Regions from separate parts of the Homo sapiens genome. Here region 2 is linked to region 1. Evidence: fine-mapped expression QTL. Tissue or cell type: whole blood. Region 1 holds a variant in brackets; the other region holds the start of a gene. All regions are shown on one strand. Distances are from middle to middle.

Evidence for each region. PIP is the estimated chance that this variant, and not a neighbour inherited with it, causes the effect.
Region 2: it holds the start of S100A8, and the variant in region 1 is fine-mapped to the expression of S100A8 in whole blood (TOPMed, PIP above 0.99). The same link has a PIP of 0.9 or more in blood mononuclear cells and monocytes.

What each region holds. Positions count from the first base shown.
Region 1 is chr1:153,363,915-153,366,599 of GRCh38, reverse strand. No RefSeq gene overlaps it. Among named protein-coding and RNA genes, the nearest start is that of S100A9, 7.4 kb to the right of the region's middle. The variant C/T (reference allele first, on the strand shown) is at 1,133.
Region 2 is chr1:153,389,676-153,392,360 of GRCh38, reverse strand. It overlaps S100A8 (S100 calcium binding protein A8), which reads left to right and starts at 1,288. Exons shown (of 3, transcript NM_002964.5): 1 at 1,288-1,320; 2 at 1,804-1,966; 3 at 2,118-2,329. The coding sequence starts at 1,826. The coding sequence ends at 2,258. RefSeq lists a silencer at 2,081-2,281.

The DNA.
Region 1 (2,685 bases):
ATTTGCAGACTGAATAGCTGATGAATGTTGGCTTCTTTGCATGGAGCTGTTTCCTACCAGAGGGAATGAACACCTGGAGTAGAATGCGAGGGCGATGCTTGAGGCAGTGCTGGGAGAGTGGGAGGGCCTGGCAGCAAATGAGCCACACCACAGCGGGTTTGGAGGCCTTGCCCCCGGGGGTGGGCTCCTCTCCCTGGACCCTGGTGATATTTGAAGGCAGCTGTCATGGCTCCCTTGCTTACCTTTTCCAGACTTGATTCCCCAAGACCTTCAACAATTTTCCCTTGTGATTGTCTCCTTTCATTATGAGGAGTAGACTCGAAACTGGGACATCTTGTGTTTTGAGGGAGCCATTTCTGGTTAGATATGACCCGTAGTTACTTCACAAAGGTTAGATATGACCCCTAGTTGCTTCCCTGAAAGCACTCAGCCACATAGAACTGCATTTTACCACAGAGGACAGGAGGGCAGAAGGCAGTAAGTGAGAAAAAGCTCAGGGAGAGGATGTAGAAAAGGTAAAGAGAGAAAGAGAGGGGGCAAATCAAGAGGGAAAAGGTTGGGGGAGAGGCAGGGGAGAGGAGGGAGGATCAGACTCCAAGTCAAGGCGGGGGATGCTGAAGGTGCGGGCTGCATGCTGGAATCCTGCTGCCCCTGCCGCCCCTGCTGGTGGCCACCCTCCTCTTCCTCTTCACCTCGGGTCTTGGCAACAAACCCCTTCCTCACTGTACAGTCTGCATGCAGCAATTTTGGGTACGTGGGCAAGAGTGGGAGAACTCATGCAGAAAAGGAAAGCCTAGATGTAGTTGTTTTGAGCCAGCACCAATAGCGGTGCTCTGTGTTTAGTTGGGACTCTGCATTCCGTGGGACACTCAGGATGGAGGCCAGCTGGCTGTCGCTCAGGGGCTCCCTTTCCCTGTCTCCTGTGTCTGGGAGTGGATCTCTGAAGACAGGGGTGATCTAATCATCCAGGGACTGATTGTCGTCTTAGGATAGAGAAACTGTTTCAGGTCAGAGCCCCAAGGGGCAATAGGACTTGAGAAACCAGTTGTTTCAGTCCTGCTGTCACTTTGGTAATTGGAGTGTCAAAATCCATGACACGGGGCTTTCTAAAATATATGTTTTAAGCAACTGC[C/T]GGAAGAGGGGGCAGTGCATTGGGGTTGGATTATGGAGCTTACTTCAGGGCAGGGCTGCATCAGGGTTGTGTAAGGTTGGCTCACCGGGCTGGTGAAAGCTGAGATCTTCCTTCCTGGAAAGGTCTTGGCAAACAGCATGAAATGATCTTATTTATCATGTTGCAGTCACACCTCTCCTAATTGAGGTGAAGCTTGGGGTAGTTTGAGGCTCTAGCTTTACTTTTTCTGAGAAGCACCGCTTGGACTCTTAAGTGCTCACCTGGGCTCTTGCAACAGACTCCCCACAGGCCATGTGCCTGGGGTCTCATTCCCACCCCAAACCCATCCCATAAAACACAGATAGAGAAACTTCTATGAAATGCAAATGTGATTATATCATTGCCCTCCCTGAAGCCTTCGGGGCTCTGCCCCTGTTCTGCTGAATGGAGTGTGAGTTCCTTGGCCTGGTACCTATCCTGTTCTCATCTGTCTCTCTTACCTCTCCCTGCCACGCCCCCAGTGCTCCTCATTCGCCCTCAAACCCCACGCCTGCCCATTTCCAGGCCTTTGCATACATGGTCTCCTGAAGCACCTTCATGTTTATCCCGGGATGTCTCCAGGTACCAGCCTTGATGTCACACTGATACTTACCCCTCCATGGAGATGGCCCCAGTGAAGGGCATCATTCCCACCTCAAAGTCCCACCGAGCTACATCCCACCGAAATCTTTTAGCTGGACCTCCCTGGCCTCTCATTTTCCACATCAGATTAATTTGAGGAGCTGTCTTGTCTCCCTGCAGGCCCGAGAACTCTTTGACAACATGGACAAGCTTTATTTATCATGAAGGCCCCTCAGCATTATACTGTGCCTGACACATAGTAAGTCTGCAGTTAATGTCTGTTGAGTGAATGAAGGGACATACAAGTGAGTGGACAAGTGAATTCATTTCTCCCCCAAGTTCTGGAGCCATCCCACCACCACCCAGGCCCCAGACCACATTCAGAGCACTGTGAAGTGTCTGGGAAGAGTTTAGCAGCTTAGACTACTTCTGATCCTTCCTCATTCCTCCCAGGAAGGCATCTAGCAGTTCAGGTTCCACTGCTAACACCAGCCTGGAGGGCAACTCATTGTTGCAGGAATTGTTGGATAGTCATCTGAAGACAGGTTGTCTCTGATTCTTTAGTCACCATGGTGCTGGGAAAGTCCCCAAAGGTCATGTTTCCCCAAAGGACTCATTAATCACAGAGATAGCTACTGATTTCCACTTGGAGTGGGAATCTTAACCTTGACATGGACATGGACATGCTTGCTCTCTCTATCTGAGAAAAGAAGCCCACTCTGCTCTACTCAGCAGAATGAGGTTTTTTTTTTTTTTTTTTTTTTTGAAATGAAAGAGGCTAATGGGAATGAAGAGGTTAAGTCACCTTGATGAGTTCTGTTCAACTACGTTTAAAGAAAATTCCGCAGGGTGCAAGTGGCTTGTTGTCAGACCTTCCCCCAGGGTCTGAAACAATTGCCTACATGCAGACTGAGTTACTAGAGACAAGGTAAATGGAAGAATCCTTGTTACCT
Region 2 (2,685 bases), 26 kb before region 1:
TTCTCTATGCCCTCACCAACACTTGTTTTCTGGGTTTTAAAAGAAGTAGTAGTCATCCTTGTAGGTGTCAGGTGGTATCTCATTGTCGTTTTGCTTCATGTTTTCCTAAAGATTAGTAATTTTCATATGCTTATTGACCATTTGTATATCTTCTTCGGAGAAGTGTCTATTTGAGTCTTTTCCCCAATTTTTGATTGGTTTGTTTGTTTTTTGTTGTTGAGTTGTAGGGATTCTTTTATATTCTGGATATTAATCCCTTATCAGATATTTGTTTTACAAATATTTTCTTTGTAACAACAGAAACACACCACAGTCTTCAAGGTTGGAAGCCAGTTAATCTGAGTAGCATTTTGTTAGTGGTGGGGAGAGGATTTGTTCCTCCTGAAATCCTGGGGAATTGGCCACCTCCTCTTCTCCTCTTAGGCATGAAGCGCGTCTGGCTTCTCCAAAGAACTCTTCCCCTCCACTACCTCAGAGTTAGCTTCCTCTCTTCAGCCAGTGATCCTGGGGTCCCAGACACAATAATTAACCAAGAGAGGGTGAAAGGCTCCCTGCTGTGTTTATGCAATGGCTCAGGCCCTTGTGAAGTGCCGAGGGACCCCAAGCAGCCTCCATCTCCCAGGGCATGGTCCATCCCCAGCTTCACAGAACAGGAAAGCTGTGGAGGAGTGTGGGCAGCAGGGTAGGAATGGATATAGCCCTTGGCAACAACACATTTCCCCACAAAGCACCCACCCAAAAGAACAACAACGATAGTTTTAGTTTTTAGTAATGAGAACAATAGTTCTCATGACTAAAAGCCATCAGCCAGGACACGTGTTCTCAACCCTTTTGCGGTCTTTGGACCCTTTGAAACTCTGACAGAAGCCATGGAGGAATGTTCTCACTGAGTGCATGCACTCAAAATGATGCATTCAACTTCAATTCAGTTTCAGGGATGTATGGCCTGACCACCAATGCAGGGGATTAGCAATCGCAATAGTGGAGAGGGCATGGGAGTGGGAATCTGGCTGGATCAAGCAAGTGGATGCCAGCAGCCCAGAAAAAGAGCCCCCCTACCTGCTTTTTCCTTCTGGGCACTATTGCCCAGCAAATGCCTTCCTCTTTCCGCTTCTCCTACCTCCCCACCCAAAATTTTCATTCTGCACAGTGATTGCCACATTCACCTGGTTGAGAAACCAGAGACTGTAGCAACTCTGGCAGGGAGAAGCTGTCTCTGATGGCCTGAAGCTGTGGGCAGCTGGCCAAGCCTAACCGCTATAAAAAGGAGCTGCCTCTCAGCCCTGCATGTCTCTTGTCAGCTGTCTTTCAGAAGACCTGGTAAGTGGGACTGTCTGGGTTGGCCCCGCACTTTGGGCTTCTCTTGGGGAGGGTCAGGGAAGTGGAGCAGCCTTCCTGAGAGAGGAGAGAGAAAGCTCAGGGAGGTCTGGAGCAAAGATACTCCTGGAGGTGGGGAGTGAGGCAGGGATAAGGAAGGAGAGTATCCTCCAGCACCTTCCAGTGGGTAAGGGCACATTGTCTCCTAGGCTGGACTTTTCTTGAGCAGAGGGTGGGGTGGTAAGGAAAGTCTACGGGCCCCGTGTGTGTGCACATGTCTCTGTGTGAATGGACCCTTCCCCTTCCCACACGTGTATCCCTATCATCCCACCCTTCCCACCAGAGCCATAGCCATCTGCTGGTTTGGTTATTTGGAGAGTGCAGGCCAGGACAAGGCCATCGCTTGGGGCATGAATCCTCTGCGTACTGCCCTGGCCAGATGCAAATTCCCTGCCATGGGATTCCCCAGAAGGTTCTGTTTTTCAGGTGGGGCAAGTCCGTGGGCATCATGTTGACCGAGCTGGAGAAAGCCTTGAACTCTATCATCGACGTCTACCACAAGTACTCCCTGATAAAGGGGAATTTCCATGCCGTCTACAGGGATGACCTGAAGAAATTGCTAGAGACCGAGTGTCCTCAGTATATCAGGGTGAGGAGGGGCTGGGTGTGGCGGGGGCTCTCTGCCTGGTCCTGGGGCTGCCCTGGGCCAGCGGTCCTCCCTGCCACCCTTCATAGATGGCTATGCCTCGGCTCTCTCTGAGATCTTTAAACTCTGGCTTCTTCCTCCTCAATCTTGACAGAAAAAGGGTGCAGACGTCTGGTTCAAAGAGTTGGATATCAACACTGATGGTGCAGTTAACTTCCAGGAGTTCCTCATTCTGGTGATAAAGATGGGCGTGGCAGCCCACAAAAAAAGCCATGAAGAAAGCCACAAAGAGTAGCTGAGTTACTGGGCCCAGAGGCTGGGCCCCTGGACATGTACCTGCAGAATAATAAAGTCATCAATACCTCATGCCTCTCTCTTATGCTTTTGTGGAATGAGGTTCCTCGGTGTGGAGGGAGGGTTGGAAAACCCAAAGGAAGAAAAAGAAATCTATGTTATCCCACCCTACCTCTCACAAGCCTTTCCTGCTTTACCCCTCACCTGGCCTCTGCCCCACATTCCCTTCCAGCCCCTCCATCTTGAGCCATTGGATTTGAGGCTTAAGGATTCCAAAAAGTCCATGACACTATAGCTGATGATTTTACTAGTGGTTCTGAAATGGGTCGGGGATTTGGGAACAGGGTGGTAGTATAAGAACAACTGATACTGTTCTCTAAGCTAAATTTTAGCTTCCAGCTAAATGTCTTAGATGTGGCTCTTGGGAA